Linked DNA regions of Homo sapiens: region 1 is linked to region 2. The links come from fine-mapping of genetic effects on gene expression. Tissue or cell type: stomach. Region 2 holds a variant in brackets; the other region holds the start of a gene. All regions are shown on one strand. Distances are between the middles of the regions.

Region 1 (8,085 bases), 690 kb after region 2:
GCCACAATCCAACCCAGCACATAGGGATTTGTGCAGTTTTAAGCTCCAGAGAGCTGTTTCGTGGTATCTATGCCAACACGTACTGCAGATAAAGCACAAACCCAAATTGCCCCACTAGGTCAGGAAGCAGAGTTGGTGATATAAGCACCTAGGAGGTGGGGCAGCAAGACAGACAGAAAAGGTCAAGAAACCCATTAGCTAGAACTCCTTCCTTAGCCCTTCATCCTTCCCTGCTCAGCAGGGGAAGGTCTTGCCTGTCTTTTTGGTGATGATGAAAAGGGACACGCTTCAGAAATCCCAAATGTTACCTTTGAATGTAGGCGCCCCGGTGATGCCTATCTTTCCTCCTTACCTTTGATATCTTTTTTCATAATACTTTATTTAATGCTGAACGTGTTACACAACGTATCAGCCCTCCAAGTTGTGCAATCCAGAAGGGCGACAGCACAGAGTAGAAAAACTGGTCTAACTTCAGTGAGACACAGATTACACAACATGATGAACAAAAGACCAGAAACAAATACACAAATATTCCCTTGGATTATGTAACTAATAAGTGGAAAACATATTTGATGGGAAAATTAAAAAAAAAAAAAAGTTTCAAGCTTATGCCCTGATCCTTCCTTCTTGGTTATGCAGTAAACATAAAAGTTTTCAGTAGTCTTTTCCCTCCTTTACACTCATGCTGCATTTCAAATTGATACTCTACACAGTGATGAGTAGAACCTTTCTTTCTTTATTACCTTTCATTACATGAAAGTGTTGTTAAGACTTCAAAACTGTATCACTTCACTCTTAATAAAACCACTTTTCAACATATTCAATGAGTTTGACTATAATTTCACTTCCTTCAGTAAGACATGACAACTATCAGTAAGCAAGAATTACACTCTCACCTTCCTGTTTTTTTGTGTGTTTAGGGAGGGGTTGAAATGGTTAAGGGCTAGCCTGAGTTGGCACTAACATTGCTCTCACAGGAACTTTCAGAGGCAGTGGAATGGGATGTATGAACTTGGAGCAGGTAGACCTGGATTCTAATTCTGGCTCTGTAGCTAACTTGGCCATCAGTTTAACCCTTTTGTGCCTCAGTTTTCTTCTCTATAAAATGGGACACAACTATCCTATGAAGCAAGTAAGGATGAGCACGCCGCACAGTGGTGAACACAGCTTTCAGTGGAAAGCCCTGAGACGTTAAACACCCTTGGCTTCAAATCCCAGTCCTGTCCCTTACAGTTAGACCTTGGGTTTGTCACTTTAAAATGCTGCTTCCCTCTCAGAGTCATAACCCATGCTTTCACACCTGTGCTGAGTATGAAATGAGAGGCCATCTGTCAAGTGTCACCAGAGGTGGCTGCTCCCTGCATGATGTGCCTTACAGGTAACTGTCACTCAGACATCTGCAGCATGAATGGCCCTGTAGATCACAGATTTGAACGAATTAGTCACTATCTCTGAACACAGGTGCATGAGGCAGACTGCTTCTAAAGAACTTTAAAAGGGATTTATGGCCCACAGGACTCCGGGGCTGTAATAACTTCGGGTACATTAGGCATAGCTGAATCTATGCACTCTTGGGAGCGCTGACCATTCAGGGGGTTGGGGGAGATGACAATCTGGCCAACAGCTAGTGGCTAAAGCAGAAGCACCAACTCCCCACTTTTTGTTGATACATTTAGAACCCAGTCTTGCTCCAAAAAAGGGGTACCTGGGCTTAGTAAGAACCAGCCGCTCAGTGCTAGCAACGGTGGAACCCTATATAGTGACCTCTGCTTTATTTCAAATCTGCGAGCCACAGGCAGTGGCCCCTCTGCACAGTACCTGAAAGGCCTGCTTTCAGGTCGAAGCGCCTTCTTGAGCAAGACCTGCACCTCAGCTGGCGACGAAAGGGGGACAGGGACACGACGGCGCCAACATTCCAGGGCGGCCACACCGCAAGCCTGCGGTCGCGTTCCGCGGGGAGATGAGCCTTCGCTCGCCACGGAGACCCCTGGCCCTATGGCCGGCAGCTGCTGCGCTGCGACCCCAGCCTCAATATCATAGCATCCCCGCCCTCATCGCGTTTCGCAGAAAATAAAAATGCCTCGCCCTGCTAGTCAGCAATGGGAGAGTCACTGATCCCCAAGTTAGCGGTGGGAGTGGGGAAGTGTGGCCCCGGGCCCTGCTGGAGCCTAAAGACACGCGATTACAGAGGAGGACGAGCCAAACCGAGTCCAGATCGAGAGACCGGCGCCCAGATCTCGGCGCGGTTGGGCAACACTCAGCACCAGTCCGCAGAAAAGTCTAAGGCAGAGGAGAGCAAAGGGAGCCAACGCGGGCGCAAATGATCCAGGTGCAGCCGAGGCAGCGCCGCCGCCCCGGGCCTCGGTGTCCCGTTCTGCAAAGTGAGGACGAAGGATCGAAGTGTCTCCCCGACCCTGCTAGGGCTCTACAGGGAACCAGGCTAAAGCTGCCTGAGGCTCGGAGACCGGAAAAAGAGGGAAAGACAACAGGGAAGAGAAAGGGAGGAGTGGGTGGGAGACCCTGAGGAAAGACGGCGAGGACAGGGTTGGAGGGTTTTCCGCCTTCCTCCTCTTCCTCCTACACCTGAGTTCTCACCGCTGGGCCAAGGCCCAGAGCCCACGGAGCTTAGGCACCAGTAGCCAAGCTTCTCCCTCCTCGCGCCAGTTTCTGCGAGGCACGGGGCAGACGGTGGGCAGCACAATCATGCATGCCAGGGGTGCAAGGGGGAGAGGTCCGGCTGGAGTCCGAGGGCAGGTGAGCCGGCCTGGGGCTGGGCAGGGGTGAGATAGCCCCAAGCGGGGAATCGCAGGGCGCCTGCGGCCCAGCCCGCGAGCCCCGGACGGGCCAAATTTTATTCCCCAACTTTGAGCAAGGGGAGGGGGTGTATGCAAAAAAAAAAAAAAAGGAAAAAAAAGTTGCTGAACTTTTCCCCCAACTCTGCCGTAGAGGCGGGAGTGGAGGGCGGTGCCTGCACCGATTCGCCGGCGGCTACGGTCGGGAGGCTCGGATTGGCGCTCGGGGGCCGGGGCCGGGGCGAGCGGGCGTGGGGGAGGGGAGCGGCCCTCCCCGCCCGCGGTATCGGCTCGCGCCGGGAGCGGGTTAATTTCAAATCGGGGGCTTGGCTGCTCCTGGACGGTCACGCTCCCTCTGCCCGCCAGCCGGCCCGCCAGTCCCGGTCCCGGCGTCTCTCTCCGGCACCCACCTCGGCGCTGCGGAAAGACTGACTGCCAGGTACGCGGGCTCCCGGGCCTGAGAGGGGCAGCGGTGCTGACGAGTCCCGGCTCAGCCCCCGCCGGCTCCCGCCGTGAGGTGGACTGACAGGTCAGCGGGACGCAGAGGGGCGCGGCGCCCGGGCGACACGGCACCGGGAGAGGGCTCGGGAGGGTGGCGGCGGCGGCGGCGGCGGCCGTTTCCCGCCTCCCGCTTCGCCGGGGGCCGTGAGGGAGGAGCTGAGCTCCCGCGCAGAGGGGCGGGGGCGAACGAGGGGGAGGGGCGGGGTTGCCGTGGTTCCGGGCGCGGGTTTGCCCGCGCTCAGGCCCCGCGCAGCTAAGGGGAGGCGCCGGCCACGGTCCGACTTTCCGCGCCAAATTTTTAAATCGAAGGCGGAAGGTCCGGCCCCGCCCCTGGCGCCGTCGGCCAATCGCAGGCCCGCTTCCGGCCCTCTGATTGGTCGGGAATTGTTGTCCTGGAAACCACGATGATGCTGTCCGGGAACTGTCGGGACTGCGGCGGGCGGACAGGGCCTGGGGGAGGGGCCTTTGGCCGAAAGTTGGGGGAAGTGCACTGAGCGAGTGGCGGCCGGGGGACAGTACCTGCTTGCCTTATTGGGCAAATACAGCCTTCCAAGGTGGAGTCTAACGCCGTGGTGTGAACTGGCCACCCGAACAGGGAGTAAATAGTGCTTTGTATCTTTAAGGAAGCCCTTTTTTAAATTTAAAAAAAAAGTCTTAATTATAAGACTCTTTAAATGCCCAACTGCATACTTGGAGCTTTGGGACTGAATTTGGAACTTTCCTGTCAAGCGACCTCCCACGACTTTACTGCTGAGCCTGTGCACGTGTGTGTAAGGGGAGAAATCCAGGCATCTAGATGCAGACTTGTACCCAGTTACTTGGGGTCGCGTGCGCTCAGCTGGGACCTGGGCTCGTGCGCTTAGTCCGGAGCCCTGATCTGCGAACAGGTGGGTGCTTCCTAAAGTATTCGCTGGGGTCCGGAGAATGGCTCGCCTTTTCTACAGATGGGAGAGGGCTGTCACTAGAAATTCCGTGGGTTGCTTGAAGTCTTAGGACCGCCGATCCGTTTGCTGAAGGAATTTACTGGCATTTGTTGGCGTTCTCCGCTCAGTGGGGCGATCTCTGGTCGAGAATAAAATGTAAATCTAGTTTGTCATTTTTCGTTAGGCTTTGTTTCCGTAGCCTCTTGTCCGTGAAGGAATTTTCAACAGATCTTTTGGTTCTTGTTTTTCTCTAACTTTTTCTATTTCCTTTTTTCTTTAAGGATATTAAAACTTTTAGTACAATTGATTGGACTACTTGAACCATCGGGATTTGGGGAGGAACTCCAGATTTTTCATTTTTAAACTCTAAATGTATGAGGAATTTACAGAATGGAGAACGAAAAGGTACTTTATAACTTCAGTATTCATCATTGCAATTTTAAATTCAGTATCATCCTGATTTAACTCCATAATTTTTCCCTATCCAATGTGTTTTCTTAATGCCACAACCTTGGTTAGCCTCTGTAAAGACCTGGAAAAAATGAACCTTATCTTATAGTTTCAAAAATATATAGTTTAAAATATATACTAATTTAATTAATATAGTTTAAAAAATGAAAATTATCTTAAAAAGAAATTCAGTCTCCAATCATGTCAAATGCCCTTTCTGAATTCCAGTTGTTCAAGAATCCTCAGAAATGTTGTAATGAAACTAACAAATTTTATTATTCTTAAAAATACCTTTTCTCTCTTTATGTCTGAGACAGCTACCAAATCATTAAAAACTAGAAAGAGTGTAAAGGGGCAAACCTACCCCTCTTCAAAAATTCGTTAGTTTCATTACAACATTTCTGAGGATTCTTGAACAACTTGGAATTCAGAAAGGGCATTTGACATGTTTGGAGACTGAATTTCTTTTTAAGATAATTTTTTACCAAATTGGCAGCTTATTTATGGGGTCTGCAAAATGCTCTGTTTAGGGGGCAAACATTTTGTAAAATTACAAAAGAATTGTCTGTGGGGGGTGTCCAACTACTAATAGGTTTAAAAAAGTGAACTTACATGCATATTTCCTAATAGTTTTAGATGTTAGTCAAATAAGAGAATTACTATTGCTTCTGATAATCTGAGGCAAAGAAAAAGCCTATTGTCAGATCAGTACATCTCAGATGCACACACTGGCAAGGAGCTCCTGTTGGGTCCACCATACTGACTTCCATGTAAGAAGAGCACCATACTTGGAGTGAAAATATCTGTGTTCCACTCCTACGTGACCTCTCTCAGCCTGCATCTTCTCTTCTGCGAGCTAAGAATGCAGGATTCCATGAACATACAAACGGAAATGCACTTGATAAACCCAAGATGTCACAACATGTCCCATTTGTCCATGTTCTTAAAGTTATTTGGTCTGCCTATTATTTTACTTATTGCTGTTCCAAGCATTTTCTTTAAAATAGATAAAGATGGGAGTAGTGTGTGAAGTCCCTGGTGTCCAAAACTGGAAGGAACATAGTCTCCATTAGCCTTATTTATGAACTGCTGTTAATTTACCCTTTTGTCTCAGTGGCTATCCTGCTTCTGCCAGGATCTAGCTTTGTGGTCTTAGGTAGCTGTTAGGTTGATGCAAACATAATTGCTGTTTTTGCCATTACTTTCAGTAGCAAAAGCCACAATTACTTTTGCACCAACCTAATCATTTTACTTCTCTGGGCCCCATTTTCTCTATCTGTAAAATGAGGGAGTGGATGTTCAAAGAGCAGACTTTTCTGGTCAGAAATCCTGCTGTTGGACACTCTAGATTTCCCTGATAAATCTGACCATATGCTATCCCTCACTCTTGTCTCCTTGTCTCTCTGACTCTTCAGTGGTATTTTATTTAGCACCCACTGCATGCAGCCATTATGCTAGGTGGATAAGAATTTCTGCCCTGTAGGCCTTTACTTATTACAGTGCCATGAGTAAACAAAAGTCATTTCTAGAAGTTTGATCATTTAACATTGTCAGTCCAATTAGGGGAAGCTGAGTGAAGGGCATTTGGGAACTCTATACTGTCTTTGCTTCTCTTCTCTAAATCTAAAACTATTTCAAAATACAATTAAAATTATAAGTCCTAACTAAAGTTGTTTTTTCAGTGGTTGAAACATAAGGTGAAAACATTTATGGCTTATTGCAAAATTAAAAATGGGAAATGTAATTATTAGAATTGACAATACACATCACATGACCATTAGAATACAGTTATTAATTTCCTCAACTCTACAATCTCATTAGACATTTTTTCCTTGGCATGATTCTATTCGTTATGCAATTTCTAGAATCCAAGCTGTCTGATAAATCCTGTTTTACCATGGATTTAATTATTTACATTTTTTAAACCAGGAAAATCTCTTTTGTGAGCCACATAAAAGGGGACTAATGAAAACACCTCTGAAAGAATCCACCACAGCAAATATCGTGTTGGCAGAGATCCAGCCTGACTTTGGCCCTTTAACCACACCTACCAAGCCCAAGGAAGGCTCTCAGGGAGAGCCGTGGACACCGACAGCCAACCTGAAAATGCTCATCAGTGCTGTGAGCCCTGAGATCCGCAACAGAGATCAGAAAAGGGGTTTGTTTGACAACAGAAGTGGATTACCTGAGGCCAAAGACTGTATACACGTAGGTTTTCAGAGGACTGGTTGGAGGCTGGGGAATTTGTTGGGGGGAGGGGGGAGGTTGTAGCTATTAGAGAAGTGCCAGCAATTTAAAGCATCACCACCCGAAGGCTGTTATTAACTTCCTTCGGAGCACCAGAAAGGTTTGGACCCCAAGAAATATAGCTCTGGGAATTCTGAACCTTTGCGTTATTTTCGTTTCAGGCTTTCCTTTCAGGTTTGCCAAGCATTTTGTACTGGCCCCCCTAACCTTTTCTCCCATCCAGACTTTGCAGCTGTTGAAGCTAAGCGTGTGTAAGTTGGTGTCAGTCATCGAGCACAGATGCCCCTAATAAATCTGTCAGACTTTATTTTAGAATAAGACATTGTTTACCTTTTCCTTTGTAGGAACACTTATCTGGAGATGAATTTGAGAAATCCCAACCAAGTCGAAAAGAGAAAAGTTTAGGATTATTGTGTCATAAGTTCTTAGCACGATATCCTAATTATCCCAACCCTGCTGTGAATAATGACATCTGCCTTGACGAAGTGGCAGAGGAACTTAGTAAGTATGCAAAGAACTCACTGAAAGAATTAATAATTAAAGTGGCTTTATGGACTTAACTCCTTCAGACCCCCGCTCATCTAGCCAGTGTTTGTAAATGACACAAATAAGCCGGCATGGAAATTTTCTATCTCTAAAGCCCTCTTCTAATATAAGAATGAAGGTAAGTAGTTGCAAATTTCAGCAAATCTTGGAGGCAGAAAAGTCACAATGGAGGTTGCTTCTGACTACAGTTGTCTCTGAAGCTTTAAAGAAAGGCAATATTGTCTCATGACTTGTTTCACAAAGTTACAACTGTGAACTTTTGCTTCATTGCTCTCCCTTGCTGTTCTTGAAGAATCAGGCTGATAAATGGTTATCTTCCTAGTTGACGCTGAGGATCAGCTTCTGTGAGTGGGAACAGGACCTGTGCACTCCTGGACCTTCAGCACTATTCTGAGGACTAGTTTTCTGAATGTTTTGTGTTGGGCACAAGTTATTCCTCCTGCCCCTTTTTACTCTGTTCAAAGACCTGAATCTATTTGGAGCTAAAAAGGGGCCCGTGGTGAATTTGGGGTACCTTTGGAGTCATGTGGGTATCTTAATTTAAACCTGTGAAGTGATGTGCTGTGCAAGATAATACATTTTAATACAAAGCAATCACCCCGTGAAGAAAAGTTGCCCTTCTAATA
Region 2 (8,090 bases):
GACCAGGGAGGGTCAGCCATGGCCACACAACCAATCACTCCCAACCCAAATGCCGTATAGCTCCATTGCCCACTTTGTGGATTATCTGTGGTTAGGTTTTAATTTCTGGCTTGACTTCCTCCTGCTTTCCATACTGCACAGTTCACATCCCCCCAACCCCATCACATTTTGGTGGCATGTGCCACGTGAAAGCATGCAGGTCTTAACAAATCTTAACAGACACCTGCACCGTTAATACAGCCAGTGCAGGAGAGAGTAGGAAATACCTACCGTTTTCAATTATTCATCCCATAGCCTGTTTCCCAATTATGGGAAAGAATCAAGAATTATCCAACTTTAAGCAAACAATGTATCAGAGACATTAAAATACAACAATTACAAAAATAGAAAAGAAGGAGAAACCATGTAGAATCTTTAAAAAAGAATAATTACACACAAAAGTTGTTAAAGCCTATTAAAGCATGTAAGTTTTTCCTATGCTGGCACTTTTTAAAAGTTGCAAATGGCTGGGTGCAGTGGCTCACACCTGTAATCCCAGTACTTTGGGAGGCCGAGGCGGGCAGATCACCTGAGGTCAGGAATTCAAGACCAGCCTGGCCAACATGGTGAAACCCAGTCTCTACTAAAAATACAAAAATTAGCTGGGTGTGGTGGCACATGCCTGTAATCCCAGCTACTTGGGAGGCTGAGGCAGGAGAAGTAGAGGTTGCAGTGAGCTGAGATCATGCCATTGTACTCCAGCCTGGGAAAAAGAGTGAGACTCTGTCTCAGAAAAAAACCAAACAAACCAAAAAACCAAAACACGTTGCAAACATGGTTCAGGTTGGACTTAAAAACAGCTTTTTTTTTTTCCTTTTCTTTCTTTTTTTTTTTTTTTTTTTTTTTTGCTTAAGAGTGTAATCTATGCAATGGGTTCACTGTGGGCCAGAAAACACACAGGTTATCTGAAAGTCAAGGCTTCCCCTTGGCGCTCAGTGAGTATTTCCCTGGCCAGACTCTTTTCTCAGAAAAGCCTCAAAATACTTCCAAACTAGAGCCAGAATTGTTCTAGTGAGGGCAGGCTCCAAACTAACAGCTAGTCACCAAGGTGGCCAATGTGACAGAAATGGAAACTGCAGCACCCTGCTTCAGTCAGTGCCCCGGATGATGCAGCCTATCTCTCAAGGAAGGACAGCTGTTGGAGAGAAAGTGCCAGGCAAAGCACGTCTCCACTGGGCCCCGTGCCCGCACCCACCCACACCCCATGCCCAGTGTGCACGGCAGACAGGATACACCCCTTCAGCCCCCCAAAAAGCACCTCTGCATCTGCAAACTCACAATGACATGACTTACCTAGCAGCAGCCACTTTCTCCTGCAATGATTCCCTAGGAAAAATCCTCCAACCGGAGAGGCTGCCCTTCCAATTGTCACAAGTGTTTTCGGTTAAACTGCTCATGTTTCTAATTAACTTTTGTCATCCACAACTACTCCAGTGCCCAGAAGCCTGGCGGGATTAACGGCTGCTTCTTCTGCTTTTTTTTTTTTTTAAATACCTATGTTCCACTGCCTTCTAGCAACAGAGTAAACTGTATATAGAGCGGCTTTTTATGATTTAAAAGTCAACGGCTGCTGAAGCCGAGTGAAGGCAGCCCCTGTGTGGGGCGTGAGCACCGTGCCGTGAGAGCTCACAGTAAAGGAACTGCCTCCTTTCACTCTCAGCTGCTCGGGGAAGCCACAGCTCCAGGGTGATCCAAAGCAGACCTCCCAATGTTTTAAAACACATATATCTTCCTGACTTACTGGGGATTTGGGTTTGGAGGGAGGGTGCCTCACAATCCTCCCTAACAAAACTCAAGGGGTGTTGTTGGATGTTTTCCTGGGGAGACTGGCTTGGAATCAGGCTCCGAGAACCCACCCACACTGCTGGCCTGTTAGAGGGTTGCTACAGGCTTGACGCTGCCCATCAGCGGCCTGCTTGGTGTCAGGAGGCTCAGTGCTCAGCACATTGTGAAAAGGAGTTCCTGCCCCTATTTTAAGAGTGAGGAAACTGAGACTTAGGTAGGGCTAAAGAATAATCCTAAATTACACAGCCAGAAATGCAGATATCTGGGATTTGAACTCAGGTCTCCTGACATGGTGTCATAGCTACCTCCTTCGATGAAGAATGCATGTAAACAGCCACTTAAACAACAAGAGCACTTTTAGGAACTGCGCATTCTACTAGCTTATGTATGTTCATGACATCCATGGTGGAGTACAAACCAACCCTGCCATTTGAAATACAGCAGCCTACATCACAGAGGATGGCTCTCTGGCTGAAATAATAGTGAACCCACCAATCCTGAGTACCACTCCTCCTAGGAAAACTGCCTTTCCCTTTACCTGAACTTAGATCTGGGGCAGATGTAAAGTTTTCATTCATTCATTCAGTATATTCATTCATATGTATCTATTCATTCTTTGAGCTCCTAATATGTGTCAGATACTGTTTTAGGTACTTGGGATCCATCGATGAAAAAACAGATAGAAATCTCTGCCTTCATGGAGTTCACATTTTAGCAAGAAGGAACAGATAATAAATTTAATTAAATAAACTATATTATTTGTTAAAAAATAGTGCTAAAGAAAAGGACGGGGGTCTTAGGGGCAGGTTGCAACACTGTCCTTATAGGAACTACAAGATCACATTCAAAGGTATGTTCCTCTTTCCTAAAGAAGTTTTAGGCATAGTCCCCACGTGTACATGGATCAATGTGATCTTACCGCTTGGAACTACTCTGAGGCTTGCTCAGAAATGGATGTCTCCACTATAATTTCTATTTTTTTTAACACTAACAATCGCAGCTAGAAATTAACCAACTAAGTAGCTAATAACTGACCCAGAAGAAAACAGATACTTGGCTTGTCTTGGTGAAATGGCCATCTGAGACTCTCAGGCCTGGTTTATATCACATGACATTTTCCCCTACTGTTGTGCTTCACTAGGATTCCGTCCATACCTCTTCCATAGAATGATTTTGGAGGGGCAGCTACTTTATACAATGCTCTGGGAACACAGAGTTGAATAAAGCTCCCGCCCCCTAGAACTCACTGTCTCAGGGTGCAATGGACCTCAAAACAAACCATGAAAACAGTGTAAAAAGTGGTAGAGGGCTCTATGAGGTGCTATGAGAACTGGAGAATTAGTAGACTCTACTAATTCCCTCTGAAGAGTTTGGGAAAACTTCCTGGAGGAAGTGATCCTTGTGTTACCACGTGGTGCTTCTGCTATAGGTCAGTTATTCCCCTGGTCTGGGATTTCCTCCAGGACAGAGACTCCCCGCCCTGACTCATCTTTGTGTTCTAAAGCCTGCTGGAGCATAAAGATACTTATGAATTGCTGGTGGGTAATTTTGACATTTGCAAGTCATATTTAAGGTAACAGAGATGTAGGATTTGTGATGAGTCTTTAGGGTTTTATTAAAACTCTTAAGCCTAAACTCAGGAAAAAATTCAGATTAAAACTCAAAGAATCAGAATTTCTATGTAGTATTTAGTCTGGGCTCCCCTGGTTATTAAGTCATGGGGGCATTTCAAGGCTACTCATTACGACTATAAAAGGTAGCACCTGGGTATGATTCTGAATTTGGTTTCTAGAGCAGGAGTCTTGAGTGGTGCTAGATAGGGGGCACTAGGGCATCTGAGGACCAGGTCATCAACATTCTACACTCATGTCACAGCCAGAAGTCCCCTATGACATGAAGGGTATGTCAAGTCATGAGTGGTCTTGTACAAAGTAACTTGATACATTTCTATCATTCCTAGGATATCATACCAGTGATCTCAGAGCTTGGCTGAGTGGCTGTTTGGGGCCTGTTCCTCCCTTTGTCTGTTTCTTTTTTTCTTTTTTTGAGATGGAATCTCACTCTGTCACCCAGGCTGCAGTGCAGCGGCTCGATCTTGGCTCACTGCAACCTCCACTTCCCAGGCTGAAGTGATTCTCCAGCTTCAGCCTTACAGACGAGTACCACCAACACCTGGCTAATTTTTGTGTATGTGTGTGTGTTTTTTTGTAGAGATGGAGTTTCGCCATGTTGCCCAAGCTGGTCTCAAACTCCTGAGCTCAAGGGATCCAGCCACTTCAGCCTCCCAAAGTGCTGGGATTACAGGTGTGAGCCACCGCGCCTGGCCTTCTTTGTCCATTTCTAATCCTGGGGTCCTATGACTCCTAGCATGAAGCTTTCCTCAACAGGCTTCTCAGATAGTAAGTTAAACAAAGGGGAGGTGTGGGTGGGTAGGCTGGACCTTGAACTTTGTCCCCAACTCATGGCGTGATCCTAGATATGCCATTTTGCCTCTCTTGGCTTCAGTTGCCCCATTTGTTAGAAAGAGGATGAGCTATTTCTCTAGTGTCCTTTTAGCCTTGCTTCTATTCAAATCTGGGCAAGTCTCTGAGACGACCCCTGCAGCTGGGTGATTTCCAATCTTGATGGAGAAAACCGGCTGGGTCAAGGTATGGTCAACATTAGATGAGCTGCTTGTGAATTCAGAAATGCTAGTATCCTATGAAAACCAGTTTGGGGGAAGGTGGGTGGCGTGAGTTCTTCAAAATGAAAAGCACTTATTTCCCTGATAACTAACAACTCTTGTTATTTTCCTCAAATATCTGAACCTTTGTTAAAGCAAAGGAACCTAAGGGGGAAAAAGAAAAGCATAAAAGAATGTTTTGAACATCTGTATCCCCCAAATGATGATATGTGGGCCACTGAAGTGGATGAGATTGTGTTGGATGGCACATGAATATTTTTATATTTTAAAAGTCATATTTATTGCTTATTAGATATATTAGAAACATATTGGAAAATGATAACTAGCCATATATAAATTAACAGTTTCATGGATATTAAATGTAGATTTAAAATTTGAGCTAGTTTAAGGAAAATACAAATAAAAAACACAAGTGGCTCACAGATTTGGCAAAAATCACGCAGAAATTTTATGTAAGACTGAAGTGGGAGAAACACTGTTAC[A/G]TTAAATCAAGATATACTCATATTAAATGTGTTCTTTTGAAAAACGTAATCAACCAAATAGAAATCAAACCAGAAGGCTCAAATAAGGACTAGGTTCAAAACGAACCTGAAATGGTTAGTTTTTAGAGCTTTATTTATTTCTATATATTTGTGTAGTATGTGATATTTTGCCAGTTCTGGAAACATGATCAGGCCTTGTTGAGCCAAAGGTAATTTTAAAATAGTAGCTGTGACAATTTTTGACCACATAGTAAAAACACAGTAAGAATGATATATTGCCATCCAATAAACAGCCACTTCTCCACATGTTAAACTGAAAAATATCAAGATATACTCTTATTATGTATAATAAACTCTGATATATGCTACTCTAGTCTGTTCTAAAATGCTGATTGCAGAGCCCTTAAACAGGTTTTTTTTGTTTTGTTTTGTTTTGTTTTGTTTTAAAAGATGTAGTTTTGCTCTGTTGCCCAGGCTGGAGTGCACTGGTGCAATCTCGGCTCACTGCTGGAACCACAGGCACATACCACCACACCTGGCTATTTTATTTATTTTATTATTTTATTTTGAGACAGAGTTTCACTCTTGTTGCCCAGGCTGGAGTGCTCACTGCAACCTCCACCTCCCAGATGCAGGCAAGTCTGCTGCCTCAGCCTCCTGAGTAGCTGGGATTACAGGTTCCTGCCACCATGCCCGGCTAATTTTTGTATTCTTAGTAGAGATGGGGTTTCACCATGTTGGCCAGGCTGGTCTGGAACTCCTGACTTCAGGTGATCTTCCCACCTTGGCCTCCCAAAGTGCTGGGATTACAGGCGTGAGCCACTACGCCTGGCCCTTAAACAGGTCTTATGCCCCACTAGTGGGCTGTGCCTTGCAGTTGGAACACCTCAGTTCTAAAAGACCAGCTTACAAGGTTGGCCCACCACCAACTGACAAACCACTGTAAGAAGGAAAAGTTTCATTTGAAACACTGCAGACAGGATGGCTTTGAAGAAAAGGAATTTTTTTTCTCGGAGTTTAGAGAGAGTATTAATCCTCCGGTTGGGAGGGAAAAAGTTTGGTTTGGTTTTTCTGGCAACCAGCCTTAACCTTCCCTGACAGGAACCAAAATGCTTTCTAAATGAAAATACTGTTTAAAGCAGATAAATAAAGCATTTCTTCCTCTCTCCTTCAGTGAGGGCGGACACTGGCCCCAGGTCTCTCCTGTCCCCAGCTTTTCAGTTAGGGAGATGTTGGTGGTCTGGTCCTGATGCCAACAGGCACTCAGGGAGAGTGTCCTGTTGATCCCAGCTCCTGTCACTGCTACTGTGATTTTTAAATCTGCCCTGGGGAGGTTTCTGGCCTAAATCCTCTCCCAAGTCTTTGGAGAACAGGCCTGATAATTGGGTGTGGGAAAATGTCTGCAATTTCCTAAAATTTGTCAAGGTGTCAATCTTGAGTATTCAAATTGGTTAGTATAATTGAAACTAGTTTTTTTTGTTTTTTTTTTTTTCTTTAAGTGTATTGACTCCAGCCACATGAGCTAGAGACTGTTTTCAGAGTCATCCTGGTCAGTTCTTGACAACCTGGTAGCCACCAGACCACAGAAGGGCAGGTGAACCTGTCTCGATCCACTTAGAGGTTCTGCAAGGTTCTTGGAGCCTGGCTGGAGGAGCCTCCTCAGCAGCACTGCTGTGTCAATGTCTAATATTAAGGATATAGCTTAAACACAGTCTTCTCTCCAACTCCATCTTGGAGAGGATCCCTGGAGGTACAGAGAGAAGTAAAGAAGGTAAGCGGGGCACGAGGACAAACAAAGAATGGAGACAGGAGAGTGAGAGGGCATGGAGGGAGAGCGAGCTGGGCTTTGGATCCACATGCTTCAAGGAGCTTATTGTGTCTATAATTCCATATGCTTCTAGAAAGTCTAAGCTAGAATAAGGATGAGGATCTATACAATAAAATGGTTTTTTTATAATCAAATGTTTTTTAAAAGTTGTTTGGTTAATGCAATCCTTATCAAAATTCCAGTGACTTTCTTTTTTTTCCAGACATACAGAAATCTATCCTAAAATTCATTGGAATCTCAAGGGACCCCCAAAAATCAAAACAATCTTGAAAAAGAACAAAGTTGGAGGCCTCACACTTTCTGATTTCAAAACCCACTGCAAAGTTAAAGTAATTTTTTAAAAGTGTGGTACTATCATAAAGACAGACATATAGACCAGTGGACTAGACTAGATAGCTCAGAAATAAACCTTTGCACATATGGTCAAACAATTTTTGGTAAGAGTTCCACAACTATTCAATAGGGGAAAGAATGGTCTTTTCAATAAATGGTGGTGGAAAAACTGGATATTCTCATGGAAAAGAAAACTAAAGTTGGATTCTTTTTTTTTTTTTTTTTGAGACAGAATCTTACTCTGTTGCCCAGGCTGGAGTGTAGTGGCGCAATGTCAGCTCACTGCAACCTCCGCCTCCCGGGTTCAAGCAATTCTCTTGCCTCAGCCTCCTGAATAGTGGGATTATAGGCATGCACCACCACGCTCGGCTAATTTTTGTATTTTTAGTAGAGACAGGGTTTCACCACATTGGCCGGGTTGGTCTCGAACCCCTGACCTCGTGATCTACCCGCCTCAGTCTCCCAAAGTGCTGGGATTACAGGCGTAAGCCACCACACCCGGCCTGGATTCTTACCTTATATCATATGCAAAGATTAACTCAAAATGGATCTAAGATCTATACATAAAAGCTAAAACTATAAAACTCCTAAAGGAAAACATAGGGCAAAACCTCATGACTTTGGATTTGTCAATAATTTCTTGGATATGACACCAAAAGCACAGGGAACCAAAGAAAAAATAGTTGGATTCACGGAAATTAAAAACTTCTGTGCATCAAAGAACACTATCAGTAGAGTAAAAAGGCAACCTACAGAACCGGATGGAATATTTATAAATCGCATATCTGATAAGTGACCGATATCCAGAATATATAAAGAACTCTTCCAACTCAACAAAAACAACCGGATTTTAAAATGGGCAAAAAACTTGAATATTCTCAAAAGAAGATATGCAAATGGCCAATAAAAATATGGAAAGACATTAAACATCACTAATCAT

What was found. PIP is the estimated chance that this variant, and not a neighbour inherited with it, causes the effect.
Region 1: E2F8 starts here. The variant in region 2 is fine-mapped to the expression of E2F8 in stomach (GTEx, PIP 0.98).

What each region holds. Positions count from the first base shown.
Region 1 is chr11:19,236,643-19,244,727 of GRCh38, reverse strand. It overlaps E2F8 (E2F transcription factor 8), which reads left to right and starts at 3,783. Exons shown (of 13, transcript NM_024680.4): 1 at 3,783-4,180; 2 at 4,498-4,621; 3 at 6,596-6,874; 4 at 7,258-7,414. The coding sequence starts at 4,607. The region is part of intron 1 of CSRP3-AS1 (CSRP3 and E2F8 antisense RNA 1); the gene reads right to left. RefSeq lists enhancers at 1,437-2,006, 2,007-2,578, 2,784-2,893 and a silencer at 3,014-3,713.
Region 2 is chr11:19,925,033-19,933,122 of GRCh38, reverse strand. The region is part of intron 6 of NAV2 (neuron navigator 2); the gene reads right to left. Among named protein-coding and RNA genes, the nearest start is that of NAV2-AS3, 52 kb to the left of the region's middle. The variant A/G (reference allele first, on the strand shown) is at 4,990.